Homo sapiens: one gene and its partners. The protein of the gene in region 3 purifies or fractionates together with the protein of the main gene of each other region. This does not show direct contact. Each region holds a gene or a part of one and is shown on either strand. Other genes may lie near its edges.

What was found.
Region 1: the proteins of SLC9A9 (region 3) and ARL1 purify together in Homo sapiens (affinity purification with mass spectrometry, with the first as the bait; one large-scale study listed by BioGRID). This does not show direct contact.
Region 2: the proteins of SLC9A9 (region 3) and DSC3 purify together in Homo sapiens (affinity purification with mass spectrometry; one large-scale study listed by BioGRID and IntAct). This does not show direct contact.
Region 4: the proteins of SLC9A9 (region 3) and TMEM63B purify together in Homo sapiens (affinity purification with mass spectrometry; one large-scale study listed by BioGRID and IntAct). This does not show direct contact.
Region 5: the proteins of SLC9A9 (region 3) and NSF purify together in Homo sapiens (affinity purification with mass spectrometry; one large-scale study listed by BioGRID and IntAct). This does not show direct contact.
Region 6: the proteins of SLC9A9 (region 3) and PODXL2 purify together in Homo sapiens (affinity purification with mass spectrometry; one large-scale study listed by BioGRID and IntAct). This does not show direct contact.
Region 7: the proteins of SLC9A9 (region 3) and MAP7D3 purify together in Homo sapiens (affinity purification with mass spectrometry; one large-scale study listed by BioGRID and IntAct). This does not show direct contact.

The regions. Positions count from the first base shown.
Region 1 is NC_000012.12:101,400,994-101,405,460, forward strand, and holds part of ARL1 (ADP-ribosylation factor-like protein 1), read right to left. Parts: intron 1,954-4,467; coding exon 1,872-1,953; intron 181-1,871; coding exon 69-180; intron 1-68. UniProt on the Homo sapiens protein: GTP-binding protein that recruits several effectors, such as golgins, arfaptins and Arf-GEFs to the trans-Golgi network, and modulates their functions at the Golgi complex.
Region 2 is NC_000018.10:31,004,459-31,008,925, reverse strand, and holds part of DSC3 (desmocollin-3 isoform Dsc3a preproprotein), read left to right. Parts: intron 1-400; coding exon 401-657; intron 658-767; coding exon 768-910; intron 911-1,794; coding exon 1,795-2,019; intron 2,020-4,467. UniProt on the Homo sapiens protein: A component of desmosome cell-cell junctions which are required for positive regulation of cellular adhesion. Required for cell-cell adhesion in the epidermis, as a result required for the maintenance of the dermal cohesion and the dermal barrier function.
Region 3 is NC_000003.12:143,491,749-143,496,215, forward strand, and holds part of SLC9A9 (sodium/hydrogen exchanger 9), read right to left. Parts: intron 3,701-4,467; coding exon 3,587-3,700; intron 2,017-3,586; coding exon 1,905-2,016; intron 1-1,904. UniProt on the Homo sapiens protein: Endosomal Na(+), K(+)/H(+) antiporter. Mediates the electroneutral exchange of endosomal luminal H(+) for a cytosolic Na(+) or K(+).
Region 4 is NC_000006.12:44,140,721-44,145,187, reverse strand, and holds part of TMEM63B (mechanosensitive cation channel TMEM63B), read right to left. Parts: intron 4,161-4,467; coding exon 4,090-4,160; intron 1-4,089. UniProt on the Homo sapiens protein: Mechanosensitive cation channel with low conductance and high activation threshold. Osmosensitive cation channel preferentially activated by hypotonic stress.
Region 5 is NC_000017.11:46,634,975-46,639,441, reverse strand, and holds part of NSF (vesicle-fusing ATPase), read right to left. Parts: intron 2,067-4,467; coding exon 1,900-2,066; intron 1-1,899.
Region 6 is NC_000003.12:127,638,555-127,643,021, forward strand, and holds part of PODXL2 (podocalyxin-like protein 2 precursor), read left to right. Parts: intron 1-690; coding exon 691-969; intron 970-4,467. UniProt on the Homo sapiens protein: Acts as a ligand for vascular selectins. Mediates rapid rolling of leukocytes over vascular surfaces through high affinity divalent cation-dependent interactions with E-, P- and L-selectins.
Region 7 is NC_000023.11:136,223,566-136,228,032, reverse strand, and holds part of MAP7D3 (MAP7 domain-containing protein 3), read left to right. Parts: intron 1-601; coding exon 602-749; intron 750-2,019; coding exon 2,020-2,124; intron 2,125-3,152; coding exon 3,153-3,206; intron 3,207-4,467. UniProt on the Homo sapiens protein: Promotes the assembly and stability of microtubules.

The DNA of each region.
Region 1 (4,467 bases), on a different chromosome or scaffold from region 3:
TAATTATTCTTCAATGTAATAATATGTAAATGACTGCCCCACATTTTAAAGTGGTTACGTTTTCTTACCTCCAACATGGCAACTAACTCTGATTTGGAAATGCCAATTCGGTCTCGGTCACAACTGTCTACTACATAAATGACTGCATCTGTGTTTGAATAGTAACATCTCCAGTATGGCCTAGAGAAAATTTAAAAGGGGAGAACATATTGTTATTGTTTTAAGGAAGAAACTGACATATCAATTGCCAATTCTGTCCCACACATGTTAGAATCAATGCCTTAATGATTCACTGTTTCTGGTGGATATATGTACCATATCCCTCAGATGTGATGGAGTCAAAAGAATGTTGATAAACATTGGCTGGGCACGGTGGCTCACATCTGTAATCCCAGCATTTTAGGAGGCTGAGGAGGGCAGATCAACTGAGGTCGGGAGTTCGAGACCAGCCTGACCAACATGGAGAAACCCCATCTCTACTAAAAATACAAAATTAGCTGGACATGGTGGCAGGTGCCTGTAATCCCAGCTACTCGGGAGGCTGAGGCAGGAAAATCACTTCAACCAGGAAGGCAGAGGTTCCAGTGAGCTGAGATGGTGCCATTGCACTCCAGCCTGGGCAACAAGAGTGAAACTCTGTCTCAAAAAAAAAAAAAAAAAAAAAAAAAAGAATGTTGATAAACATTGACTCACAGGACCAGGGAGTTTCCAAATGAATTCATTCAGACTTCAGGCTGACAAAATTTATTTATAATCTATGAAATCACTAAATATACTGATAGAAAAGTTGTACACAGACCTGATCATTACATCTTCTTAAACAAATCTTTAACTAGGCACCCCTTAAGAGGAATAAACTTTTTAAACGTGATTTTATTTAACAGTCATGAAATTAATCACTGACATCAAGCAGTAGAAATGGCTAAAATTATAAATAAACTCAAAAGTGATTCAATGGAGTCTCTCTGAGCCTACTCTGGCTTGGGAGGCTGCACAATTTAAAAAAAAAGAAACGTGATTCAAGAAATGAGTTAAAAGAAGTCAGAATGTTTGGAGAATGCATTACTAATCTTTTAAGATGGTACTATCGTGACCAACTACTGACGGTCATCAAACATTCACTGTTGCCATGTCAAGCCCAAAATGCTAAGCAGAAGACCTGAACTTCAGAAGGCATTTATTTTTTATTTATTCATTTATTTTTTTTGAGACAGAGTCTTGCTCTGTAGCCCAGGCTGGAGTGCAGTTGCGCGATCTCAGCTCACTGCAACCTCCAGCTCCCAAGTCCTGGTACAAGCAATTCTCCTGCCTCAGCCTCCCAGGTAGCTGGAATTATAGGCACGCACCACCATGCCCAGCTAATTTTTGTATTTTTAGTAGAGACGAGGTTTCACCATGTTGGTCAGGCTGGTCTCCAACTCCTGACCTGATGATCCGCCCACCTCGGCCTCCCAAAGTGCTGGGATTACAGGCGTGAGCTACCATGCCCGGCCAATGGCATTTATTTTTATATTAGCCCTAAATGGTATGCCTGCAAGGTACTTTAATGAATTCCAAAACAATGTGTTTCAGAGAGGAGAGACTGACAAGAACTAAATGGAGGGTCCTTTCTAATTGAGAATAGCTGAAGTAATAAGGTCTTGAGATTTTCGTGAAAAGATTTTCATTAAACAGGTATCTGGAAAACTGGGCTTCCTTAAGTTTTAACTCAATGGATGCTCTAAGGAAATAGTTCCCAATTTTACCTCATTTTAAACTAGGTGGCTCCATTTAAATTACAATAGAACACATATTCGGGTTTACTGATTTTAACCCTTAAAAGAATCAATAAATGTCAAATACTACCAAATAACCTGGTCTTTGTACCATACCTGATACTTGTCTGTCCTCCTAAATCCCAGACTTGGAATTTAAGGTTTTTGTACGTCACCGTCTCTACATTAAATCCAATGGCTGGAAGAGAAATCAAATCAGTGGTATGTGTAGACTAATACATTCCACCTTCAAAATATCCTATCTAATTGAGTTACAGCAATTAATGGTAACTGTTATTAGAGTTTAAAATATATATATATATAATTTGTCTTAGGATTCGAGTTAAAAAGAAATGGTAATTGTTGAATCACATTATTGGTTGAGATTTTATACCATTTAAGACGAAATAGTATGCTCTGCTCCCCCACACATGTGCAGGTGTGTGCACAAAACATCAATTAGCAAGATCAATACCATCTTCAGGATATTTTTTAAAAGCCAGCAGTTCTGCAAATAAAGTATATAATTTTAGCTCAAATAAATTAAAAAAAGAATTTAAAAAAGAAATAAAAAGGAAAACATAATTTTTAGCTCAATGGAAATCCTATTATATTAAACTCCCCTCATAATAGAGTAGTTAAAAGTGTTCGAAAGCTGTATTTAGAAAGTACAGTTGTGGATGTACTATAAAAAGCAGAATTTTGGCTGGCAGCAAATAAACAGACCAAAAGAAAAAAAGCTAAACTTCAGTTCTAAACTACAGCATGGACACAGCCATGGCTGCAGCTTTCAATCTCACAGCCCATCTGCAGACATCCTCCAGAACTCACTTGTAATAAGGTCATGGCTGGGTGGTCAAAGGGCAGGTGTCCCATCCCTTTTCTCTGCCATCCTTCTTAGGTGAAAAATAGGTAAAAAATAACTTCCATGGCTGGGTGCGGTGGCTCACACCTGTAATCCCAGCACTTTGGGAGGCCAAGGCGGGTGGATCACCTGAGGTCAGGAGTTCGAGACCAGCCTAGCCAACACTGTGAAACCCCATCTCTTCTAAAAATACAAAAATTAGCCGGGTGTGGTGGCACATGCCTGTAATCCCAGCCACTCTGGAGGCTGATGCATGAGAATCGCTTGAACCTGGGAGGCACAGGTTGCAGTGAGCCGAGATCTTGCCACTGCACTTCAGCCTGGGCAATAGAGTGAGACTCTGTCTCAAAAAAATAAATAAATAAAAAATAACTTCCAGGTATAACTGGACAATTAGCTTTTGTTTTATATTTAAGTCTGCAGTGGTAAGTGATACCTTTGAGTATTTGGCAAGTATGTCTATTACAATTAAAAAATAACAATACTATGACAAATTTGAGCAAAAAACTAAAATGCAAGTTCATGATGTCTCCCTTAGAATTAGGTAGGAGTGTAATCACAATGTTCACCAACAGTAAAAAACATCGTTTATATGTGCAAGACAAGAGAATGGTGTAGACTGGGTGCAGTGGCTCATGCCTGTAATCCCAACACTTTGGGAGGCTGAGGTGGGAAGATCGCTTGAGCCCAGGAGGTAGAGGTAGAGGTAGACGCTGCAGTGAGCTATGAATGTGCCACTGCACTCCAGCCTGGGCAAAAAAGCAAGACACTGTCTCAACAAAGAGTGTGGTGTAAAGCAGCACTCACTGAAACTCCAAACTATCCACTGTGCTGCTCTGTGCACTGCAGGAGATGCCCAGACAGAGATGGGTGATTTTGAGAAGCAAAAACTAAGGGCACTAAAATTTACTGAAGGTAGCAAAAAGGAATAACAGACATTACAGGGTTCAAAACGCTCTTCTTTCTTAGAGGCTAGCCTCTTTCGTTTTAGTCCATAAATTTAAACAGTAACAATATAGAAATACCCTGAGTGACAGACTAACATTAGAGGCATAATTTAAAAAATCTTGAGCAAACTGTATGAACTCTTTAATTTAAATGTACTACTCTTCTCTAAGTAAATTCAAGGCAACAAATGAAAAAAGTATAAATAACAACAGTATTCTCATATAGTCAGTAAGACTGTTGGAGAATATTTTTGTAAGACAGTAATAATTGATTAAAATTGAGGTATTTCTTCTCTTAATAAATATATACATATACACATATATATTTTGAGACCTAGTTTTGCTCTTGTTGCCCAGGCTGGAGTGCAATGGTGCAATCTTGGCCTGCCACAACCTCTGCCTCCCAGGTTCAAGCGATTCTCCTGCCTCAGCCTTCCGAGTAGTTGGGATTACAGGCATGCACCACCACGCCTGGCTAATTTTGTATTTTTAGTAGAGATGGGGTTTCTCCATGTTGGTTGGGCTGGTCTCCAACTCCCGACCTCAGGTGATCCACCCGCCTTGGCCTCCCAAAGTGCTGCCATTACAGGCGTGAGCTCCTGTGCCCGGCCTTCTCTTGATATTTTTAAGGTACCAAATTACTTCAACACTCAGTCTCTGCAACTCAGATCTTTAAAAGTAATCAATATAATTACCTAAGATAAACTAATCTTAATTAAAATAGTAACAAATACAGGAAAAAAAGGCACTTCACATGTAACATCACTTAACATTTATATAATTCTTTACACAGATTTAAAAGGTACTTTTACCTACTTTGTTTATTTCCCCCTGAAAACCAGTGGGTATTTGTTATCTTATGTATTTTATTAGTAAAGATACTGGCTCTCAGTAAGATTTA
Region 2 (4,467 bases), on a different chromosome or scaffold from region 3:
AGTAACTGATAAGCCAAATAAAGGCAACTTCCCATACTCAGATGACCGTTAGCCCAGCCTGTTAGACAGTGCTCCAAGCAGGACCATAAGAATACTGTCATCTGTTTGCATTACTTTTTGAATCAGAGTAATTTTCCTTAGTAAGAGTGAAATATGAAAATATTTCCGGAATTTCGTTTGTCCAACTCTATGAAACTACCTGCAGAAGTTGTTGGACCATTCTTGGTAGAGGCTTAGCACGGGATCCACTCTCTGTTTAGCAAGGGATAAAAGTCAGTATTAACAACATGTGAACATAGAATTTATGCAGCACTGGTCAGGATGACAAATGTTCACTTGCCATTTGAAATGCCAGATGTATTTTACACTGACACTGATATACATGGACTTTATTTTAAAGCCACTGAATTATGAAGAAAACCGTCAAGTGAACCTGGAAATTGGAGTAAACAATGAAGCGCCATTTGCTAGAGATATTCCCAGAGTGACAGCCTTGAACAGAGCCTTGGTTACAGTTCATGTGAGGGATCTGGATGAGGGGCCTGAATGCACTCCTGCAGCCCAATATGTGCGGATTAAAGAAAACTTAGCAGTGGGGTCAAAGATCAACGGCTATAAGGCATATGACCCCGAAAATAGAAATGGCAATGGTTTAAGGTAAAAATAAATCTATAACCACATACTAATAATGTATTTGTAATCATTGAGATAGTAACTTATTTGAAAACATTTTCTGATGCTAAAGACTATTTTTTTTTTATTAACAGGTACAAAAAATTGCATGATCCTAAAGGTTGGATCACCATTGATGAAATTTCAGGGTCAATCATAACTTCCAAAATCCTGGATAGGGAGGTTGAAACTCCCAAAAATGAGTTGTATAATATTACAGTCCTGGCAATAGACAAAGGTAAAAAAAAAGTTTTAATCTGGTATTCTATAAAGGAATTAGAGAATAAAATGTAATTATTCTTATGCAGATTTATTTTGGTGGTAAGTGTATGGAATTCTTTGAAATTACTTTAAAGACTCTTTCTGTCTCTCTTAATTATCTAACAAGGTGAAACTGTTTGGTGACAAGAAGCCGTGTTTTATTTATCTTTATATCCCCAATAGGGCAGGACCTTAAATTCTTATGTATTTCTATGCTAGAGGACAAAAATAAAACTGAAATCTAAAACTAGATAAAATGGTCTCATCAGACTCTTCCACATCCGTTTGTGTCACTTTAAATTGAGCTTTTATATAGTTCAGCTGCATATTAGGTCAAAATGATCCTTTTCTTGAATTCTGTTCCTTAAAGTAACCTAGAGTTTTTCAACCTTGTCTTCACATTAAAATAAAAATATTAATCTGTAGATACTTTGTTAGACTAACTGAATCAGAATATCCGGTTGTGGAGCCTAGGAATCTTATATTTTAAAAAAATCTTCCTAGTGGTTTGAATATATACTGGGATTAGAAATCTTATCTGTAACCACTTTACTGCTTACTAACATGTGGCACCTGGAACCCCCAAAAATAGAGATTGAAATTCAGACATTTATTTTTATTTGGTAGTAATTCTGGTAAAAGATTTATTGACAGTTGTATCTGATATTATCAGTAGCAATAGTCATTTCAAATTAGCTGCAGATTCTATTTATCTGTCTATGTTCTTATTTATTTATCATTTCCTTTAATAATCAGTTTATTTAAAAACAGATCATGTATAGAATATAATTGACTTTTTATTCTTTAAGAAACTATGAAAGAATTTTAAAATAACACTAAACCTTATTCCTGTCTCCTTAGATGATAGATCATGTACTGGAACACTTGCTGTGAACATTGAAGATGTAAATGATAATCCACCAGAAATACTTCAAGAATATGTAGTCATTTGCAAACCAAAAATGGGGTATACCGACATTTTAGCTGTTGATCCTGATGAACCTGTCCATGGAGCTCCATTTTATTTCAGTTTGCCCAATACTTCTCCAGAAATCAGTAGACTGTGGAGCCTCACCAAAGTTAATGGTATTTAATAAAAAATAATGATTTATAAACTCTGAAATAACAGAATAACTGGAGGATAGATTGACTTGCTTACTTACACAAAGCATGAAGTAAAACTGAGTCTCATTAATATATTTTAGAAGGATAAACTAACCTTTTACAAATATTATATGGGGGCTCTGTTATATATAAAATGAAGGAAGATGTAATTTTTATGAAGGCAACATTTACATTTACAACAAAGGAAAGCTTTGTTAAAATGTTGGGCAGCTTATCATTAAGACAAACTTTGTGTGTGTGTGTGCATGTTTTTAAAAATAATGCCAATGGCTGGGCATGGTGACTCATGCCTGTAATCCCAGCACTTTGGGAGGCCTAGGTGGGTGGATCACTTGAGGTCAGGAGTTCAAGACCAGCCTGGCCAACATGGTGAAACCCCATCTCTGTTAAAAATACATAAATTAGCTGGGCGTGGTGGCAGGCACCTGTAATCCAAGCTACTGGGGAGGCTGAGGCAGCAGAATCACTTAAACCAGTAGGTGGAAGTTGCAGTGAGCTGAGAGATGGTGCCACTGCACTCCAGCCTGGGGGACAGAGGGAGACTCCGTCTCAAAATAATAATAATAATAATAATACCAGCGAGGTGAGGAGAGAGCAGAAGATGTGTAGTTTAAATTGTATTGTAAGCTGACTCTGGAAGTGAGGAACTCAGGTGTATAGACCAAGCACTCTAGGGTATCCTGGAAGTGAACCTGGCGGGATATAGCAAGGGATATGGGAAGGAGTATTGAGGGGCTGCTGCCTATTGTAGCAGTTTCTGGGGGCTGTCATGTTCTGTACTTCATCCATACTTCATTCTGTTGTTACTGCCATGTTCTTTCATGCAACTGGGCTTTTGTGTATATAGCCATATCTACATAGAATACCTCCTTTTCCATTTCTTAGCTTGATATTTATGAGCATGATATTTTTTTCATGATATTTATGAACATCTACTATCTATTAAGCACTCGTCCAGATCCTGAGGATTTATATAGAGATGAACAAGACAGACACAATCCCAGCTGAGATGCTCCACCTCTGAAGTTTGTCTTGAATTGGAAGGAGTGGCACCATGACCCTTCGCTACCTGCATTGCAGTGCCTTTCCTGTTGTATTAACATCTGATTACTTCTCCCTTCCAATACATGAGTTTCCTAGAATGTTTGCAATTCATCTTTGTACTTCCAGCACCTAGCCTAATGCTTAGTAGATACTAACTGCTTCATAAATGTTTGCTTGTTCAATAATTGATTAATAATGTGCATAAAAGAAGAAACATACCAGGAGAATAAGTATATCCATGTCATTAGAGTTTAGAAGGTTTTAGTAAGAATGCCAAGAGGTTGGGTGGAAGGAAGGGTAGCATCTGGTGGTGAAGGGCCTTGTGTGCCAGGCTGAGGGGACTAACCTTGGTACAGTAGGCAACAGCAATTATGCATTGGGAATGTGCAAATAAGGCAATGCCATTCCCAGATTTACATCTTTTAAAGGTGACACTGTTGACAGGAGGACAATATGAAGGGGGCAGAGTTGAGTGAAGAAAAATCAGAGGCCAATGCACTACTGTGAATAACTGAGACATGACAATGGCTCCACTTGTTGTCTTGAGGGAGCGGAGAGATTTCAAGGATCTTACCTTAGACACAGTGTGGTCTTGAAGGGTCCTAAGTAAACCCAAGTGGTAATTCATATTCCTCTAGGGAGCCTTCAGGTATGAGGTGCAGCCAAAATCTTTGAAATTCTTACAGCTACAGCAGAGCATTTAATCAAGGCTTAGGAATTCCAGATGACTTCCAGGGTGTGTATTATGCTACTTTTTCATTTTACTTAGTCTATTATAAAAGCTCAGGGAGGCTGTAACTGCCATTGAAATTCTGTGGAGCTTTTGGTTAGTTGACAATATGGTCATTAAAATAATAGATCAAGACTATTGGGGAAAATTGACTATCAGAGTTGATAAAAGTGAATTGTTATATAGATATTTCTGTTTTGTGTAAGCCTTATAAGTAGCCTGAGTGACATTAATTAGCTTCTGGTACTAAGATTACTTCCAGATGCAAAGGTGTTAATCGTAAACAATCTATTGTGCTTTGAAAAATTACCTTATCCATATGAATAGTGCGCAAATACTAGAAGGTCAATGGATAAGAAACGTAAACTTCAGAAACTATTTGTGTGTACCTGTAGATACATTGGTACTAAAGAAAAATGCTTGAAGTGTATGTTAACAGCCAACCTAACAGTATTAGTTTGTATAGATAAACATTACTGGAATACTACTGGGCTACTCCAATGCCAAATTATTTCTTTAGGGCTCCCTTCTAAGGAATTACAAGGGACAACACATATAAGATAACAGTAGAGTTTGAAAGGGTTGAAGACAGTCCTCCATTTTTATTTATTTTCATCTGGCAGGCAGTTCCTTGA
Region 3 (4,467 bases):
TTGTTTGTCAAATAAAGCAATGTTTAAAATGTAATATTGAAGCTTTGAAAATAAGCTGCTATTCTCCAGAGTAAAGTTACTGATGTTTTGATGGGAAAGAAGGAAAAGTGCTTTCCAATTCCCAGAAACGTTTTGAAAAAATGCAACCCAATGCTGGCTTCCCATTTATGAGTGCTCAAGTTTACCTTTTGCTTTCTCATAATAAAAGTCAACTCATTGCCAAAGTTTATTACTGTTCTAAGTCAAAAATCACCTACCACTTGGCCGGGTGTGGTGGCTCAAGCCTGTAATCCCAGCACTTTGGGAGGCCGGGGCGGGTGGATCACAAGGTCAGGAGATCGAGACCATCCTGGCTAACACGGTGAAACCCCGTCTCTACTAAAAATACAAAAAATTAGCCGGGCGTGGTGGCAGGCGCCTGTAGTCCCAGCTACTCAGGAGGCTGAGGCAGAAGAATGACATGAACCTGGGGGGCAGAGCTTGCAGTGAGCCGAGATCACACCACTGCACTCCAGCCTGGGCGACAGAGCGAGACTCCGTCTCAAAAAAAAAAAAAAAAAAAAATCACCTACCACTCCAACTTCTCACCTTCCTTATGACTCTCTCTCTCTTACCCTAACATGTCTGGAAATGTAAGGAAGTACTGTCAGAGGCCTTCAGTAGGGCAAATTTAATTTTGTATCTCCATTTGTCTGTATTTGAATCAATGACTCACTCTCAGCTTGGGAGCTGCCCCTTTTACCGTATGGACCAGGCTAGGATGGCACTGAAGGCAAAACAAGCCTTTTACTGCTTTCAGAAATGTGGATTTTGAGACACTTGGTTGGGTTTAGGTGGAATCTCACAGACCTGGGTTCAAGAATACATTTGTTCTTGACCAAGTTTCATAACCTTTTTGAGATCCTGAACCTCAGTTTCTTCATCTACAAAATGTGTTAATACTTGCTTCACAGGATTAATTAAAAAATAGTGAGTGGCAAATAGCAAGTGCTAATAAATGTTCATTTCTCTCACTTTTTCTATATGCCCCTATGTACCCTAAATTGTATTTGTTCATGCTGATAGCAGGTTTTATTGTAAACTCTCATGTATCCCCCAATAACTGCCTCTGAGTACATTGTAAGTGTACAGCTACATAGGAATCACGTAAGGATCTCTGCAAAAGGTCTTTGAACAGGGAAAGACTGAAGGTAGGAAAATTAATTGACTAAAGATAAACCATAATCTCCAGAGCTTTCAAGGTCAGAAAATTCATTTGGTTTATTTTCTTTTGGAAAGGAGCCTTGAGGTATGGTTTAAGCAATTAGAACACAAATGTCTTGAGAACAGAGACCTTGTCAGTTTCATCAATCAGTGCCCAGAACTCATCTCAGGCACCTGGTGAGTGCTCAATTAATATTCGTTTTCTCAACTAACAACTGAGCATACTTAGGTCTGATTTGCTTTTGTATTAACTGTGAGGAGTTTCTGGAGCTTTGCATAAGGAAGGAGCAGGGATTTTATGGAGAAGGAACACTGGATAAGGGGCATTGGATAAGAGTGGCACCATTTACACACTATTTACCCTGAGCATGCAATTTATGAAATTATAATTCAAATTCCCCAGTATGAAAAATTGATCTGAAATGGGTCAGAGGAAAGTCCAATGTCCACTCTAGGCCAGTTTCTGACCAGATATGATACCTTGAAGCCATACCAATAAGATTCCCTCTAACTTCATTTCCCACTTGGAAAGAGAAATCCTGCTGTTGCTCAGCACTTACGGAGAATCAGCATAGTGTTAGGTACAATGGGATAAAGAGAAGTTGTTTCCCCAAAAGGGTTCTAAATTTTCTCATGGTTTTTCATGTTCTGTAAAATTGTGAGAAAACCAGCAGCACTAACATATAACATAGTTCACATACCTGAAAACATCATCATGTGCTGAAAGTTCCAGGGGATCTTCTGTTTTCGGCCTAGATTCAGGAGGAAGGAGAGGGGATATATGTTGCAGGCTCTGGCAACAAAAATTGCTAGCTGTAGATAAGCACAGGGAAACATTGAGGAAAGTGTTGCTGCAATGATGGTTTGAATCCTTGAGCTTAAATATTATGTCCTCAAGCTTCTCTTCATTATGACCCCAAAACCAGAAATAAACATGTCAATTCACATTTGTCCAACTTGCTTCCAAAATTTATATTTCAAAGTCAAGTTCTTCCCAGAAATAATAGAGAACTCTGCCTTTCTTTGATACTTGCTTTAAAATTGTTAGCCCAATACCAATTCAATCACTGTAAATTTTCTAATCACATTTATATTGCTGATGACTGACTATCCTCAATTCTGCTGTAAAATGTGAGGCAGAGACCATTCAGATGCTGTGGCATTATCTTCCCAAGTGGTACTTTAGAAAGGATAAATGTGCTTCTGTTCATGTTTACCATCTTCCTTCTTATCAGTTTATATTTCCTATATCTAGCAAGCTTTGCATACCTTTTTCTTTGGTGAATTAATTTTGAGAGGAATTACCTGTCTAATTACATAATACAACTGTTGCTTTATCTGGCAATTTCCTAAAATAAAAGTTTATAAGTAAAAGTCTTTGAAAATATTGGCGCTCTTCATCTTTCCCTTTTTGTTGTCTTTGACTCCTTCCCCGATGGGCTATTCTAGTTTGTCCTCAATGGGACGGAGTTATTTGGCAAGAGTTAACTTCCTTTTAAAATCCAGGTTTTGGATGAAATTTTAGGGTTCAGCTGAATGCTCAATGAAAAGAGACTAAGAAGCAAATGCAGATGTTTAATTGGAACACAGTTTATAGAGAGGGATTGCCTCTGCTGGCTGTTCGGATTATCTGTGATCCAAGGTGGCATCTGCCCATCTTCCAAGTGGGAAGAAGGACAACAGTTGCTGACTGCCTTTGGGGACATTCCTAATGGCTCAACATCCTTTCAGATAGATATCCATTCCCACTGGAAACACCTCCTGTCCCAGGCCTAGAGCTAGGAAAACCCCCTGCATTAAAAGTGGGGTCTAGATTTCATCTGTCTTCATAGGAAAGGAAGGGTGCTATCTTATTCAGATGAACCTGTATTTGAACAATGCTTATGATGTTGAAAGCACATGCATCATGCTAATTTCATTTGATCATCTATCCTATTTTTGAAGTCCGTATTGGAAAAGAGATTTTATCATCTTGCAATGAAAACATTTCCAAAGCTGAATAATCCTGGATGCTTCCTGATATACTCTAATGCAGATTAAGTCTGTTTCTCTATAAAGAATACACAGACATAATTTTTATGTAAATGATTCATAATTATAGTTAAACATATTTTGAATGCTTGAAAAATAGATTTTCCTTTAATTTCCCTCTTTATTTCCACAGTTCTTTCCAAAGTTCTTATCTTGAACCATAATTATTTAATGGAGGTCCTAATTTCTTAGGATGTTTTCCTCCCCTAACTAGAAATCACGTATCTGCCTTGTGTCTGAGCCTTGCAGTGGACTTTAGGAAAGTGCTTTAATGATTTAACAGAATAATTCGTAAAAGTAAGTCATTCGTTATCTTCTCTAATCACCCCATGTTCTGTATTTCAAAGGATACAAAGGCTCCAAGTATAAAAAGAGCATTAAAGATATGATTCTGGAACGTGAACAGTGCCAGGCCCATGTAACAGAAGATGACGTTCTCCGCCAAAAAGTTCATAAATTCAAACAACTGAAACAAAACATAAAACAAAAAACCATTAATTATAACTCAGGTTTGAGTGCACTTACTTTCTGGTAACTGTATTTGACAACTGACTGGGTCTCCTTTATCTGGAAGGCCACCCCTTTGGCCGTGTGCTTAGCCTCTGAAGGAGGATGGAGGCCCTGGCTCTTGACCCAGGGACAGATGCCACAGCCACATCAGCATCCCATTCTTTCCAACTGTAAGGCTGCCAGAGACACGCCTGGGTAATATTAACCAGCATGATCCTTCCATGGAACAATTCCTACTAAGATGACAAAATAGTCCCTGTAAAAGAAACTGAAGCTAAGTGATTTGCTGAAGGTGTACTGTAGTAAATGACACAAAGATTGTTTAACCTCTGTGCACATTACCCAGTAGATCCACTTGACTTCCCAGGTACTGAACAACTGTTTTTTTTAAGCTTAAACTAAATTACCCTTCTCAGGCAGGCAGGAGGGACAAAGTTGGAAAACTTGGAAACCTGAAATAAGGATGAATGTCAATTACATTTTAACATTAGAGTGATCGGTATATTTCAAATCCCAGACGATGAGACTCATTAAATTGACTGATGTAGGTATATCCATTAAATGTCTACAATTTCTAGCTGCTAAAAAGAAAATGATTAATCCCAGGGATCGGTTTATGCAGCAAGAACACAATAGATACATCAAATTCAGTCAGAAGAATAGAGTAATAACATGCTATGATGAGGGATGTTCCCAAGAGTTATTCTTAGACCATTAACTAAA
Region 4 (4,467 bases), on a different chromosome or scaffold from region 3:
TTCCCCTGTCTCAGCCTCTCCAGTAGCTGGGATTATAGGCACATGCCACCACGCCTGGCTAATTTTTATGTTTTTAGTAGAGATGGGGTTTCACCATCTTGGCCAGGCTGGTCCTGAACTCCTGACCTTGTGATTCACCCACCTCGGCTCCCCAAAGTGCTGGGATTACAGGTGTGAGCCACCGCACCTGGCCAGTAGTTCGTTTTTAAATCTGATCATGCACTGTTCTTTGATCCTAATCCTTAATCTAGACTGAGTCCCCATCTTTTTATATTTTATTAAAATTTTTAGGTTGAACACAGTGGCTCATGCCTGTAATCCCAAAACTTTGAGAGGCTGAGACAGGAGGATTGCTTGAGGCCAGGAGTTCATGACCAGCCTGGGCAACATAGTGAGACCCTGTCTCTAAAAAAAGAAAAAAAAATTAGCCAGGTGTGGTGGTGAGTGCCTGTAGTTCCAGCTACTCGGGAGTCTGAGGCAGGAGGATCGATTCAGCCCAGGAGGTCAAGGCTGCAGTGAGCTATGACCACGCCCCTGTATTGCAGCACTCCAGCCAGGGAGACAGAGTGAGACTCTGTCTCAAAAAAAATTGTTTTTTTTTTTAAATGAAGGACCACCAAGTATTGAATGCATGAGTTACTGTTCTAAAGTATTAAGATAGTCCTCATAAACCCATGAGAATTTAGAAACTTAAATCTGGGATAGGGTCCTTGAGATGTACTTCCCAGGAGGCTAGAGACCTTTCCTCTGATATTGTTCCTCAAACCATTTGAGGTTTCCCCTTTGGAAGGGTGAGCTCTCATTCTCACTAAACTCATCTCTAATCCTCTAAATCCAACCACACAGGCCCGTTGATTTGCATGCAAGATATTTCCTAATTGTGCTGAGACAGTCTTCCAATCCAGACAGACTGCAGACTTGGACCACAAGCCCTGCCTAATCCTGACAATGAGCTCAAGCGCTGTCTCTTAGTCCTCACCATATACCCAGCCCTGTCCCAACAGCTTGTATATAGCAGGTGTTCAATACACATGTGGTAAATGAGCGGATCAATGAAATGGCTACTCCATAATGCTCATCCCAGTGATCCAAAAAACTCCAATTAGGACTAGAGTCTCCCTTACCCCTGCTTATAGGCTGACCTCTCCTAAACAAAACTATAGACCAACCCCTGAAACACAACTAGGATCTTCAGCTTCCCAAGGGCACTGATCAGGTCTGATTATACTCTGTCTCCCAGGCATGAAGCACATAGTAGGTATACAATAAATGTGGGCTGAATGAATAGACAGTTGACTAGTAGGGTTCACTCAGGTCTCTGTTCAAATGCCACGCTGTCAGAGTCCCTCCCTGTCTATCCCATCAGAAATAGCAACCCTTCCCAACCCCTCTTACCCTGCCTGCTTCCCTGCTGTGGTTTTCTTAGCACCTACCTCTTCTTGACACAGTCTCTATTACTAGTTCATCCGGTCCCTGTCCACCCCTCCCCACTAAAATGAAAGCAAATGAGGGCAGGCCTTCTGTCGTTTACTGCTATACCCCCAGCTCCTCCCCAAGCAGGCACATAGCAGGTGCTCACTAGATATTTGTATCAAAAAACAAAAACAAAAACAAAAACAACAAACACCAGATTTCAATACAAGCTGACAACTGATTCCAACTGGATGGTAATATTAAGATGTCACCTAATTCATTGTTACAAAAGATGGTATGAGAAAAAAAAAAGATGTCACTAATTCTGAGTACACACTGTCCTTAATCCTGACCCAGAGTGCCCTTTAATGCTGATGACAGCTTGAACCTCAGATAGGACCCCAAATAGTTCTCTCATACTGACAAGAATGATCTAATTTTGACTGCTGTTTTATAGCCTGTATAAGGGCTGGGCTTGTTTCTAATTTATTTGTGCCTGGCACATAGAAGGTTGTCAATAACTGCATGTAGTATGAAAGAGTATCCATCTACTAATGCTGATCACACACCAGTCCTTAATCTTCTAACACAGGCTCTGGAATCTGACCCTGACCAGATAGATGTTCACTCTCAATCCTGCCCAAACACTATCTCTGATTGGATCACACACTGGCCTGACCCAGGACAATGAGTGAACTCTGATTCTGGCCAACTGACAGGTCTGGACCTCAGATTAAACCTTGATTCTTTACTTTCTTTCTTTTTTGAGACAGGGTCTTGCCCTATTACCCAGGCTGGAGTACAGTGGCGCAATCAGTTCACCACAGCATTAGCCTCTTGGGCTCAAGCCATCCTCCCACCTCAGTCACCTGAGTAGTTGGGACTATTGGTGCATGCTACCATGTCTGGCTAATTTTTATATTTTTTGTAGAGATGGAGTTTCGACATGTTGTCCAGGCTGGTCTTAAACTCCCGGGCTCAAGCAATCTTCTCAAGGGGATTACAGGCATGAGCCACCACACCTGGCCTAAACCCTGATTCTGATGGTAGACTGAGCCCAAATCTCAACCTCAGTCTGGGCCATGATCCAGACCACCAGCATCCTTTATCATGACCACTGGCCAGCTCCTGATTCTGACCACAGACTGACCTCAGAGCAATCTCTGATCAGACCCTGGACTAGCTCCTAAAGCCGACTGCCATACTATGAACCCCCTGAGAACTCAATGATTTTTTTTTCTTTTTTTGAGACAGTCTCGCTCTGCCGCTCAGGCTGAAGTGCAGTGGCACAATCTCGGCTCACTGCAACCTCTGCCTCCTGGGTTCAAGCGATTCTTCTGCCTCAGCCTCCTGAGTAGCTGAGACTACTGGTACGCGCCACCATGCCTGGCTAATTTTTGTATTTTCAGTAGAGACAAGGTTTCACCAGTAGAGACGGGGTTTCACCATATTGGCCAGGCTGGTCTCAAACTCCCGGCCCTCAATGATTTTTTTTTTTTTTTTTTTTAAGACATGGGGTCTCATTATACTGACCAGGCTGGTCTTGAACTCCTGGCCTCAAGTAATTCTCCCATCTTGGGCCTCCCAAAGTGTTGGGATTACAGGCGTGAGCCACCGTGCCTGGCCTCTTCTATTTTTTATTTTTTGAAACATTTGAAACAGGGTCTTGCTCTGTCACCCAGGCTGGAGTGCAGTGGTGCACAGGACTCACTGCAGCCTCGACCTCCTGGGTTCAAGCGATCCTCCCACCTCAGCCTCCCAAGTAGCTGGGACTACAGGCGCACGCCACCACACCTGGCTAAGTTTGTATTTTTTGGTAGAGATGGGGTCTTGCTATGTTGCCCAGGCTGGTCTTCAACTCCTGGGCTCAAGTGATCTGCCCACTTTGGCCTCCCAAAGTGCTGGGATTACAGCCATGAGCCACCATGCCTGGCCTCATTCATTTTTTACAGTCCCAAAGCCCACCACAGTAACTTATGACTAACAGCACTTGAGAAAGTTTGCTGAGTGAACAGATGCCTGTGTGAGAGTAGCCCTAATCCTGTGGTATAGAGACTGTCCCTACACACCCCCATGGAGGGGCCCTTCACTGATTCCCCACCCTATGAGCTGCGCCCCAAGGTGCATCCCTAGCCATGGGGTGACCAGGTAAGTTCCCTCTTTGCCTCATTATACCACCTCCCTTTTCTCTAGTTTCTGGCCATAGGTCTGCTCTACCCACCCCAAAACATAATTCTAGAGCTGAAAAAGCCTCAGAGAATACACAGTTCAAGTTCTCCTGGACTCCTTGGAATCCACTGGAAACCAAGGAGCTTCTCCCTGTCATGGCTGCACACAAACTCCAGAATGCTGCTTTTAATTTTGAAGAAGATATGTACTCCAATGGACCTGGGTCAACAACCTATGACCCAGTCTGAGCCAGGAGGAGGTTTGGGGGTTAGGGGGTTTGAATGACTCACTCTTCAGGTTTTTGTCTTATTTTTCCTGTTCTTAAAGGGGCCTATCACCCGACCCAAGTGCTAAACCACCCTGGAATCGGACATTTCTTCCTGGATCTAATCTCTATCCCACCCACGGCAGAGCTCCAGGCTAGGGTATAAGGATGTTCTTAGAGTTCAAAGGCAGAGAAGGCTCTGCAGCAGGGCTTGAGGGTAGGGGGAAGCGTGGCTTACTCACTCAAAATGCTTCTTGATCTTTTCTGACTCTGCATATTTGGAGATTCCATTGATGAAGAGGGTCCGCTTCACCTGGGTGACAGGGGAGTGGGTTTGCCTTCTGAGGCTTGACCCCAGTGGAGCCAGGGGATGTGAGGGGTGGGGGGCACTAGAGAAAGAGGCTTTGTTTTGAGTGGGTAGAGAAGTAGGTGAGCAGAGGGGAACAGATGGGGTGGGAGGAGGCCTTAGTTATGGATAAGCCAGGTCCCAGGGAAAGCAGGGGAGTGTTTCCAACAGAAATCAGGCAGTGAGCCTAACAAAAGAGCCACGCCGTCCCATGCTCTTGAGGGGTTATAGAGGCAGAAGGGGGTACTACTTTCAGCTCCTTAGACCCTGAGAA
Region 5 (4,467 bases), on a different chromosome or scaffold from region 3:
TTGGTCTTCTTCTATGTGCTGGGGTATAATGGTAAATATTACAGGTTGGGCTGTCTGTCCATTCTGCTACTACGAGATACCACAAATGAGAAGAAACAGTTAAGGACAGTGATCTGGAGTAAGATATTTACTTCTTCTCTGAATTACGAAAGATTCTCTTTCATGGATTTACTGACTTCTACATGCTACTGAGTTTTAAATTATTATAAATACCAAAGCATTTTCTATTAAACATTCTCCTAAACATTTTCTATTAGGATACTAAAACTAAAAGCAAAGGTAAAAACCATCAAGTTTAGCTAGGCAATCTGAGCACAATTTTGGTCATCCAATACACAACAGCACCGCAATAGCTCTCTGGTGAATTGTCCTGATCTACTTTCATCAGAGACCTAACTGTACATGGTATTCCTGTCTTATTTTCTGTTTTCTTCAACTAGAAAGTAAGTTCTATGACAGCAGGGATCATATCTATTTTGTTCACTGCCGATCTGCAGTGTCTAAAACAGTGACTGGTACTAGGCACTAGGTACTATCAAATATGTGTTTAATTAATTCTTATCTCAACTATGTCCCTTAGCTGTGTAGCCATGGGCATACCATTTACCTTCTTTAGATCTTAAATTCCTCATTTGGCCAGGCGTGATGGCTCACACCTGTAATCCCAGCACTTTGGGAGGCCGAGGTGGGAGGATCACTTGAGGTCAGGACCAGCCTGGCCAACATGGCAAAACCCCATCTCTACTAAAAATACAAAAAAAAAATGGTTGGGCATGGTGGCTCATGCCTGTAATCTCAGCACTTTGGGAGGTCAAGGCGGATGGATCACCTGAGCTCATGAGTTCGAGACTAGCCTGATTAACATGGTGAAACCCCATCTCTACTAAAAGTACAAAATTAGTCGGGTGTGGTGGCGCATGCCTGTTATCCCAGTTACTCGGGAGGCAGAGGCAGGAAAATCACTTGAACCCAGAAAGCGGAGGTTGCAGTGAGCTGAGATGGTGCCGCTGCACTCCAGCCTGGATGACAGGGTAACACACCATCTCAAAAAATAAATGAATAAATAAATAAAATTTTAAAAAATAAAAAAATAAAATTCCTCATTTGTATATGTGGAGTTACATAAGGTAATCTCTTGAGGTTCATTCCAATTCTAGTACTCTTTTTAAAATAATGTACTATATCCTTTTCCTATCTAGCAGGAATTCAGTTTTTTAAGATTCTCAAATAAGCCCATAACCAAAATAAGAACTTTTTTTTTTTTTTTGAGACAATCTCGATCTGTCACCCAGGCTGGAGTGCCGTGGCACAATCATGGCTCACTGCAGCCTCAACCTCCCAGGCTCAAGCCGTCCTCCCACCTCAGCCTCTTGAGTAGTTGAGACCACTACACGCAGCTACTTTTAAAAAAATTTTTGTAGAGACAGGGTCTCACTTTGTTGCCCAAGCTGATCTTGAGCTCCTGGGCTCAAACGATCCTCCCAACTCAGTCTCCCAAAGTGTTGGGATTACAGGCATGAGCCACCATGTCTGGCCAAGAGCTACATTTTCTACAGAACTATATTAGTGAAAGAGACAGACATTCCAGAGGCAAAACAAATGTCCTATGATATAAAAAGGAATTTCAGATATATATGTCCACAGGGTTCCCAAATTTGCTGAGGGAAAAGCTGCTATAATTATACATGACATTTTAATCTAAAAGCTACTTTAGAATTTTTCTGAACAGACTCCTTGAAGTTCAGTAAATACATCTCCCTCACTTTTATCACTCACCTTGGATATACGAGTTGATACGCAAAGCCCCTCTCACTTTTTAAAAGGTGGAATTAATTTTGGAAAACTGCAGAAATTAGAATACCTATAAAGTTAAAGGAATGAAAGAAAATTAAAAACTACCTGTTGTCCCACTGAGAAGGCCTGGTTGTTGAATTGCTGAATAAATTCTGCTGCCATCTTGTCGGTGTCATAAGGGTTGGAGTCAATGCTTTTTTTCTGCAGGAAATCAATCTCGATGGTCATTGTGCCAATACACTGTTTGGCTTTGTCAAATGTATATAAGGAGACTAGGGGAAAAAAAGAAGCATTTTTTTAAAAATCACAGGAGTACAAAATACCTGTAGTGTTTCTAGTAACTAAAAGTTTCACATAAATGAATCATAAACTACTTCACCAAAAATGGGGTTTAAATGGCCTTCACTGGAGGGACACACAGGTACAGGTTTAAAAAATAATAGTCACTAGAGATTTTCTTCCCCATCTGAATTAATTAGAAATACTGAATGGCAGGCCGGGCGCGGTGGCTCACTCCTGTAATCCCAGCACGCTGGGAGGCCGAGGCGGGCGGATCACGAGGTCAGGAGATTGAGACCATCCTGGCTAACACAGTGAAACCCCGTCTCTACTAAAAATACAAAAAATTAGCCGGGCGTGGTGGCGGGCGCCTGTAGTCCCAGCTTCTTGGGAGGCTGAGGCAGGAGAATGGCGTGAACCTGGCAGGCGGAGCTTGCAGTGAGCCAAGATCACGCCACTGCACTCCAGCCTAGGGCAACAGAGCCAGACTCCGTCTCAAAAAAAAAGAAAGAAAGAAATATTGAACGGCAGTCTCTCTGTTGTTATCCCTCATCCCACTCTTATCAGGATCACAATCCTCCCCACATGGCCTCTGCATCTTTCTCCTCATTTAATGCAATACAGTATGGGATGCCCCAACACAGTTGGCATAACATGCTATTTCCAAATAAGATTTTTGTTTGACACAAAAAAACAGCTAAGGTGGGATGTGGATGAATTATTTTGGCCTAAGAAAGTAGGACGCAAGGCAAAAAAAAGAAGCTTGAAAAACAATGTTTACTAGCGGAATTTGCTCCAGAGCAAGTTAGAGTTTGACATTTCTTTTTTACTACTACAAAAATGTTTCCTGAGCACCTGCTACATCTAGGGAACTACAGTAAGTTCTACATGTACACATGTAGATAAGGGCAAGGACGAGGTTTTTAACTCCTCTTCCTATTAACAGCATCTAACAGTTTCTTTCAGGTGCTTAATATATTCATGAACTGTTTAAATGAAACAACAATAACAGAAAACCCATGGTCTCCATGCTAATAACAAAGGAGGCAATAAAGCATACATACAAAGCTTTGGATAAGAAAATTCCTGTTCAAGCCACATAAAAAGTTTTAAAATGAATTTTAGGTTACAATGTAATTAATATTAAAGTGTTACACATGATTTTACATCATGTAATAACTGTTCGACCAAAAACCTTTAATTGTACAACTACAACACAGTTTACATATCATATTTTTAGAAAAATATATGTTAAAACAAATTTTGCTAGTGACAGATAATTACAAAGAAGCATTTCCCTAGAAAAAAAAACTTGATTCTTAAATCAGCTCAAAAAGTATACTTATAAATGCCAGTTTATAAACAAACTTTTAAAGCAAAAAATTTTACAGTGCTGTATACTGTAGTGGTACTATTAGGAAAGAGTAGAGTAGGCTACCCAGAAAAGTTCAAGAGGATTTTTGCATTTGAGTTTCCCCAGGAGGGCAACTTGATTACGCCTAGTAAGAAAGAGTCTATTGCTACTCTTCAATAAGGCTTCACACACGAGCACACACACACACACACACACACACACACACACACACACACATTTATTTTCCCTTTAGGTTCCCTGAAGATACTTGTCCTAAAATTTACCAATGGCCCCTTAAGGATACAGTAGCAGCTCTCGTAAGCAACCTCCACTGAGCTGAGTCATCAGAAAGCTGACCAACTTTTATCCCTCCAACATATACCCATCAGCCTATGGTTTGCCTAACGCTCAGAGCTTGTAGACAGGAGTTGCTACACATCATGGGTCAACCAAGTTCATTCTGGTATCTGTCTGTGCTAGTTACACTTGTTACAGTTAATTATGAAATATAATTAAATAGTATAAAAACTTCTGAAGGCCTGGTTGTTGAACTGTTATTACAATGACTTTGACATTCTAGAATAGATATTATAAGTTGAAAGCTTTGGGAAAATTTTTTAAATGAAGTGTTTCTTCTAGAAAAAAAAAATACTGCTAACTAGGTATAAGCATTAAAATTAGAAAAGGTTGGGAGTGAACTCTACAAAAATCCAAGAGGTTTTGGCACTCTCAGATGCTCTACAAAGTCTAAGTTCTCCAGCCATTTCAAAGAAATCCACCTGGAAATTATGGGTAAAGTGTATGCACAAAAGATAATACAGAACTCCAATCCATGGACCACACCTCCAAGAAAAAGCCTTTAACCAACTTTTCACTTAATTACCAGTCCAAGTCACATTGGGTAAGTGAGCTTCTACAGTTCTCACCACAAAAGCAGGTTATAAACAAAGACTGTTTTTTCACACTTGCTTTGAACAACAGGCATGGCATTTCTGTGAGTTACTGAGGTCAAATAGCAAGAGGTAAACAAAAGAAGTCAC
Region 6 (4,467 bases), about 16 Mb from region 3:
AAATACAAAAATTAGCCAGGCGTGGTGGTGGGCACCTGTAATGCCAGCTACTTGGGGGGCTGAGGCAGGAGAATCACTTGAACCTGGGAGGCGGAGATTGCAGTGAGCCAAGATTGCACCACTGTACTCCAGCCTGGGCGACAGAGCAAGACTCCATCTCAAAAAAAATAAAAAATAAAAAAACTAAAGACTATGTTCAGGATACTGTATTGCTGAAATACAAATGATATTCATAATGCAGTTTTGGAGAAATTTCAGCCAAGGATGGAAGCCTGGGGAACACTGTGTTCGTCCAATCATACTGCTAGGTCCTTAAAAGCATGGGCCCTGTCTTCACTTCAGTTTGTAGCTCCAACACCCAGTACAATTGCCAACAGAGAGAGGGTACTCAGGAGGCATTTTCTGAGTGACCACATGCGCAGTGGAACACTGACTCAGTGATTCCTCTCTCTCCCCTGCCTGTCTCCATCTGTCTCCCCTTGCCCCTGCCATAGGGAAGTCTAAGCAATTTGGCCTTTTTGAAATGAAAATAGTGTCTCAGAATCCCCGCAAAGCCTCTGGGTTTTCAGGAGTGTCCACTGAAGTCCCCCCTTCCCCAGGACCTTTGTCATTTGAGACATGCTCTAACCTGGCACCAGTCTTGTGTCTTCTCTAGCCTCCCCTGACTGTCTGGCTTTTATGTCTGCACAGGAGCGTTCCTGGGTGCCTGTGTGGCTGGGTCTGATGAGCCTGGCCCAGAGGGCCTCACCTCCACCTCCCTGCTAGACCTCCTGCTGCCCACTGGCTTGGAGCCACTGGACTCAGAGGAGCCTAGTGAGACCATGGGCCTGGGAGCTGGGCTGGGAGCCCCTGGCTCAGGCTTCCCCAGCGAAGAGAATGAAGAGTCTCGGATTCTGCAGCCACCACAGTACTTCTGGGAAGAGGAGGAAGAGCTGAATGACTCAAGTCTGGACCTGGGACCCACTGCAGGTAGCTCTTCTTACCTACAGAGCATGTGTTGAGTGCCAGCCAAGTGTCTAGGCAAAACACCAGGTGACCATTTCCTTGCCAGAAGCATCTCTTCTCTCTCCCTACAGTTTTTACCATGCTGCTGCTGTTTACCTGCACATCAGAGCAAAGGCTCTGGGACCCTGAATGTCTCACAGGCCCAGGAGGCCCTTTCTCTTTAATACTAACCACTGTTTAGGGAGCCTTTATTCTGTGCTCATTTAATTCAATCTGATGCTTATAACCTGAGAGATAAGTAATATGACCCCCCTTGTAGACAAGAAAACACTGAGACTGAGAGGTTAAAAGCTGGCCTGAGGTCAAACAGCAGCTCAGATGCTCAGTCATGATTCAGACCTATGGCTTTCCAAGCCCTGGGGCTCATTGTTTTGTTTTTCCCTACTGCTCTATGCTGTCTCTGTTGAAGATTGCCACAAGGTCAGCTGATCCATGTTTCCTTGAGTCTATCCGACCAGCAATTGAGGCATTCTAACCGCCCTTCCCTCAGTCATGCACCAGAGCTAGAGCTGGTGTTTGGATCTACAGAGCCCAGCTGGTGAACATTTGGGTCCCGAAGAAAGCCCGAGGCCTAGGGCTCCAGGTTTGAATGCCCACCGCCATGAGCTGACATTGATACAGATGCAGGCATGGCCCCTCCACCAATGTCCTGGGCCAGCAGGGCCCCATCTCTTAGTAGGGACTGAGGAATTGGTGTGATTGTGTGTGCACATGGGGCAAGGTGTTACAGAACTTAACCTTTAATTTTTCTTTTTAAAATAGGTAATATTTATTGGATTTACCTTTTCTAATTATAAAAGAACACATGAACATTGTAGAAAATCTGAAACACACAAAAATAATACAAAGAAGAAAATAAGGCTGGGTGTGGTGGCTCACGTCTGTAATCCCAGCACTTTGGGAGGCTGAGGCGGGTGGATCACTTGGGGTCAGGAGTTTGAGAACAGCCTGGCCAACATGGTGAAACCCTGTCTCCACTAAAAATACAAAAATTAGCTGGACATGATTGCGGGCATCTGTAATCCCATCTACTCAGGAGGCTGAGGCAGGAGAATGGCTTGAACCCGGGAGGTGGAGGTTGCAGTGAGCTGAGATCGCACCACTGCTCTCCAGCCTGGGCGACAAGAACAAAACTCTATCTCAAAAAAAAATAAAATAAAATAAAAAATAAAAACTACCTATAACCTGATAATTGAAAGATAATTACTATTAGTAGTTTGGGGATACATTGTTCTAGTCACTTTATGTGCAAAATTGGAATCATAGGGACATTTTGTTTTCACTCAAAATATTTCATAAGTATATTTCCGCATTGTTAAATATCCATTTATAACCTGATTTTTAAACATGTTATTATTTATTTATTTTTTTGAGATGGAGTCTTGCTCTGTCACCTGGGCTAGAGTGCAGTGGCGTGACCTTGGCTCACTGTAACCTTCATTTCCTGAGTTCAAGTGATTCTCCTGCCTCAGCCTCCGAGTAGCTGGGATTACAGGCATGCGCCATCACACCCAGCTAATTTTTGTATTTTTAGTAAAGACAGGGTTTCACCATGTTGGCCAGGCTGGTCTCTAACTCCTGACCTCAAGTGATCTGCCCGTCTCGGCCTCCCAAAGTGCTGGGATTACAGGTCTGAGCCACCGCACCCGGACAACATGTTATTATTTATTTATTTATGTTTAGAGTTGAGGTTTTGCTCCATTGTTCAGGTGTGATCATAGTTCACTGTAACCTCGAACTCCTGGGCTCAAGCGATCCTCCCACCTCAGCCTCGTAGGTAGCAGGGACCAAAAATGTGCCACCATGCCTGACTAATTTTTTCATTTTTTTGTAGTGATGGGGTCTTGCTATGTTGCCCAGGCTGGTCTTGAACTCCTGGGCTCAAGCGATCCTCCTCCCTTGGCCTCCCAAAGTGCTAAGATTATAGCTGTGAACCACTGTGCCTGGCTTATAACTTGATTTTTTTTTCTTGAGACGGAGTTTTGCTCTTGTTGCCCAGGCTGGAGTGCAGTGGTGCCATCTTGGCTCACCACAACCTCCGCCTCCCAGGTTCAAGCGGTTGTCCTGCCTCAGCCTCCTGAGTAGCTGGGATCATAGGCATGTGCCACCATGCCCGAATAATTTTGTATTTTTTTTAGTAGAGACAGGGTTTCTCCATGTTGGTCAGGCTAGTCTCGAACTCCTGACCTCAGGTGATGTGCCCACCTCGGCCTCCCAAAGTGCTGGGATTACAGGCATGAGCCACCGTGCCCAGCCCTGATTTTTAACAACTACGTTATATTTCATCATGTGGGTCATCAGGTGTATTAAACTGGTTCCCTACTGTTGAATACTTAGGTTGTCTTCAGTTTTAATTCTGCTACAAATATCCTTACACATTTTCGCACCTTCCTGGTGGTTTCCTTAGGATAAATTTCTAGAATAAAATTGATAGGTCAAAAGATGTATTAGGGCCGGGCACGTGGCTCACGCCTGTGATTCCGGCACTTTGGGAGTTCGAGGTGGGCAGATCATGAGGTCCGGAGTTCGAGACCAGCCTGGCCAACATGGTGTAACTCCGTCTCTACTAAAAATACAAAAATTAGCCAGGTGTGGTGGCGGACGCCTGTGAACCTAGCTACTCAGGAGGCTGAGGCAGGAGAGTTGCTTGAACCTGGGAGGTGGAGGTTGCAGTGAGCTGAGATTGCACCACTGCACTCCAGCCTGGGGGACAGAGCGAGACTCCATCTCAGAAAAAAAAAAAAAAAAAGATGTATCAGTCAGCATCCCACGCGGAAACAGAAGACACAATCAAATTAAAACAATCTAAGGAGAGTTTGTTTATGAAGCAGCAGATTTATGAAGGTATGGGCTGGATACAGGTGAACTACCAAAGGACTCACAAGTCCTTTGGCTAAGGATCTGTGGCTAGCAACAGCTGAGTGCTTACCATCTCTAGGCACAGTGAGACCAGGGAAGGGATGAAGATGGGAGCCTGCAGGGAAAGTGGTGTAGAGAGGTGGCCAGATATGGGAGGAGACGAAGAGAATGAACGCCGCACCCCCCACCAAGTGTTCTCTCTTTCCCTTGTCAGTTTGATAGGAAAAATTATAATGGCCTTTGATTACTAGTATATTTTAACTCATATATGTACAAAACATATGTGTACGTTCATTATATACAGAATATGTGTATTCTATAGAATATACATATACACAAAAATAGTGACCACTTATCACTCTTCTTTTTTATTTGAAGCACAGTGTAGTTAAGAGAACAGGCTTTGGAGTCAGGAAGGCTCCAGTGCTGTCATTTAACAGTGATGCAATTTTTGGCGAGTAACTAACCCTAAGCCTCAGTTTCCCATCTAGGAAATGGAGATAATTATATACCTACCTCACAGGGTTGTGAGGTTCACACACCATCATACATTTCGAGCACTCAGCTCAGTGCTTGGCACATTGTTAAGTGCTCTGTGACTAT
Region 7 (4,467 bases), on a different chromosome or scaffold from region 3:
TGTCCACTGGCTGCAGGGAATAACAACAGTACTGAATTTGCTTTTAAGTATTTAGTGTTATTTGAAATAATCACACATTTTCCATATGCTTATATGGGCTTGGGAAAAAGAAGGGAATATTATGAATTACAAAAAAAACCTCTAACTTGAAGAATATTATTCATCGCTTCATATAAACAGAGCTGATTTAGCATTTGAAAGTGCTGAATACTAGGGAACCACCAGACTCTCCTCTAAATTATCTCTGTTACCCCCACGAGAGATTGGGTGTGAGCACGTGTAAAGAAGGCCTTTTAGGGGATGTCATGTCTCAAAGACAGTTAAGGAATGAGTTCCTCTCACGTATGTGTGTTTTTTAACAAGCAAAGTAATCTATTACTTGATTGAAATATTTTTCTGCTCCCGAGGGCTAGTTTTTCTCTTTAAAAAGGGGTGGAATTGTGTAATTCCTATATAGTAACAACACAGAAGATGTAGTGACTCTGGTGTGGATATAAATTATATTACTATACACAGGAAGTTTCACTATAAAAACTCACTAGTGCAAGCTGAGTATGATAGCAATCAAGATAAATACTAACAATTATTTAAATACTCTCAGGGTCATTAAGAAATCAAAAGACATGGCAAAGGAAGCAGTTGGAGGCCAAGCAGAAGACCACTTGAAACTCAAAGATGGGCAGCAACAAAATGAGACTAAAAAGAAGAAAGGATGGCTGGATCAGGAAGACCAGGAAGCACCACTGCAGGTTTGCTGACTTGACACTTTATCAGGGGATGAGAACCAGATTATAAAGTTCAGATGGAACCCAGAGCAAAAATCTCTGTCTCTGAGAAAGAAGACATGAGCAGATTCTCTGGCTGCATTTTATTTTTTATTTTATTTATTTATTTATTAATTTTGAGATGGAGTTTCACTCTTCTCAGCCAGGCTGGAGTGCAATGGCACAATCTTGGCTCACTGCAACCTCTGCCTCCCAGGTTCAAGCCATTCTCCTGCCTCAGCCTCCCAAGTAGCTGGGATTACAGGCATCTGACACCACGCTCAGCTCAGTTTTGTATTTTTGGTAGAGATGGGGTTTTACCATGTTGGCCAGGCTGGTCTTGAACTCCTGACCTCAGGTGATCCGCCCGCCTCAGCTTCCCAAAGTGCTAGGATTACAGGTGTAAGCCACTGCGCCCAACCTCTGGCTGCATTTTTATGTTACAGTCTCTATTACCCAGTACCACTGCAGGTCATTGTCAGCCACCCTCAGAAAACCATAGAATGTTTTCCTAGTGAAATAAGCAGAAAACAGCAAATTGTAGATTAGTAGTCCTTAATTTGAAATCCAAATTGCTTTAACAGATTCCACATCCTACATTGGTTTCCCCCATCTTGCATTCTGTGGTACCATATACAACTCCATCAACTGGACCTTACACCCCTGTAACAGATAAGATAAACCATACATACTTCTACAAGTTTAAAATCATTAACTGAAGAATGTCTCATCTATCTAAAGTCAAGTCACTGGGTAAATAAATGCCCAAACTGAGCTCAGACTATACTCAGTTTGAATTATTACCATAGCCCAATTTATATTTCCAGTTTTTAGTGTATTATTCACCAGCATTGGTCATATGTTTTATATATGATTGTTTATGCTTGCATTTCTCAGGAGGGTGCCTTCAAGAATCCTCTCAGTGCTTTTGAGAAATGTCAGGCTGTTGGCTCCTGTTACTGTGTTAATGGATAGCTCCACAGTCACATACTTTGAATTAGGATGGTGTGATGTTCATAACAATGACCCTGTGGTCCTGAATCCTCAGGATAACATTTAGCCTAGCTTTGTGCATTCTAACTAGTGCTTTGAAAATTGACAATCCGCAAATATCATGATATAGGAACCCTCATTCAAAAGGTTACACTCTTTTGTTATACTAGATAACATTTACCATTGAAATTTTTAAACTAGAGTTCTCTGATGTCACTCAGGTATCTTGAGATTGAATGATATTTTTATGCAAATTTCCTAGAAAGGGGACGCCAAAATAAAAGCTCAAGAGGAAGCTGACAAACGCAAGAAAGAACACGAGAGAATTATGTTACAAAATTTACAAGAACGGTTAGAAAGGAAAAAGGTACTCGCTCTCTGTTTGGGGGGACTTGATTCTGTGTTTAAAACAATGTTGGGCACCTGATATCAGCATGTTTTTAAAAATCACAAATCTGATATATGCTAGTTCCTGGTGGTTTTCCCACTCGATTCTCTTCCTTATCCAAGGATCTGACTTCTCCTACATAGAGGGCTGTCCTCTTACTGATCATGCCTCCCTCTCATGGACCCTTGGTGGCCATTGGCCATTACAGTGATGCCTCACTATATCAAACCTCTGGTAACAAAACTTCTCTGAGCAGAAGGACTCCAGTCATGGTAGGGGTTGGTAGAAGTTAAGACTTTCTTCTAAACTGGCTGGAAATTGCAGCAACTACATGGGGAGAAGCACAAACTGTAGGCCTCTTTGAGAGGCCAAGGTGCAGGCTATTTTTAAGGTAGGGCCACATGTGAGCTCATCTGCAGCCCTGGTCCAGGCTGAGTTGCTGCAAGGCCTATCTGGTAGTAGATTGGTCACCTTGAGGGGGCCAGGGAGCTGCAACTCTCCTCACTGCAGGGAAAGAAGTGTGCACAGGAGAGAGAATTCCTGTCCTTCCCTAGAAATATATTTCTCCTCCACCTCCTATCTTCTCTCTTCATTAACACAAAACAGTGTGGCATCATTGAGGTGTATTATTTTCATTAACATTGGCTTCAGGAATCAGCTGAAGACTAAAGACTAAAATTATGTTAAAAGCTCTAATTGGTTCGCAATAATATATGCTTAGTCTAATGAATTTCTGCATATGCAAAATTAGGAGTGAGATGTTGTCATTTGAATGTTTGTGTTATAACAAATACAGCGGTCATCATTCAGGGCATTTTATAGCTGAAACTGGGATTGGGATAGGGGACTCAACTGCCACCGTAAGCCTTTTGTTGGTAATATTTGTGGTTTTGGAGCAATCACTGCCATTGTGCACCTCTGTGAAATGGGGATAATCAACTCCTTTAGGACAACTGTTTGGTTTCTAATCTGTTTTCATGTTTGAATTTTTATTTTCCTTTAAATAGAGAATAGAAGAAATTATGAAGCGGACAAGAAAGACAGATGTGAATGCCTCAAAGGTAGTCTCCATACTCCTACCAGCAGTGTATAAGAATGCCTCTTGTTTCACATTATTGCCGAGTTTTTCACTTTACCCAATCTGGTGGTAATGAAATAAAGTATTACATTTGCATTTCCCTGATTATCAACAAGGTTGACCATGTTTTCATATCTTTAGTTAGCTCTCATATTTCTTTTGTGTGAAATGTTTTTTTTTATCTTTTGCCCAAGACTTTTGGGTTGATTTGTCTCATTGTGGTTCTTTAAATGTTATAGATACTGCTTCTTTTTTGGTTATGTGTTGCAGATACCTTCTCCCAGTTTACAGCTTATCTTTTCTTTTTCTTTTTTTCTTTTTTTTTTTTGTATACAATGTGTAATGATCAAATCAGGATAATTAGCAAATCCATCACCTCAAACGCTGATCATTTCTCTCTTTTTTTTTTTGAGACAGAGTCCCGCTCTGTCACCCAGGCCAGAGTGTAGTGGTGTGATCTCGGCTCACTGCAACCTCCACCTCCTGGGTTCAAGTGATTCTCCTGCCTCAGCCTCCTGAGTAACTGGGATTACAGGCATGCACCACCATGCCTAGCTATTTTTGTATTACTATTAGAGACAGGGTTTCAACATGTTGGCCAGACTGGTCTCGAAATCCTGACCTTAGGTTATCCACCTGCCTTAGCCTCCCAAAGTGCTAGGATTACAGGTGTGAGCCACCATGCCCAGCCAGTTTATCTTTTCTTAATGTTGTCTTCTTCTGGATAGAAGCTTTTTTTTTTTTTTTTTTTTTTTTTGAGATAAGAGTCTTGCTCTGTCACCCAGGCAGGAACACAGTGGCGCAATCATGGCTCACTGCAGCCTCCACCTCCCAAGCTCAAGCAATCCACCCATCTCACCCTTCCAAGTAGCTGAGACTACAGGTGCATGCCACCACACCTGGCTAATTTTTTATTTTTTATTTATTTATTTTTTTGTAGAAACAGGATTTTGCCATGTTGTCTAGGCTGGCCTTGAACTCCTGGGCTCAAGTGATGCACCCGCTTCAGCCACCCAAAGTGCTGGGATTGCAGGCTTGAGCCACCACACCCTGCATTCTGATTTTAATGTTCTTGAATTTACCAGTATTTTCTGATGACTAATGAAGTTAGGCACCTTTTCATAAATGCTTAGTGGCCTGTTGGAGATTTGCTTTGGTGAAGTACCTTTTCAAGTCATTTGCCCATTTTCCTATTTTGTCACCTGCCTTTTTCTGATTGAATTGTAGGTATTTTTACCTACACT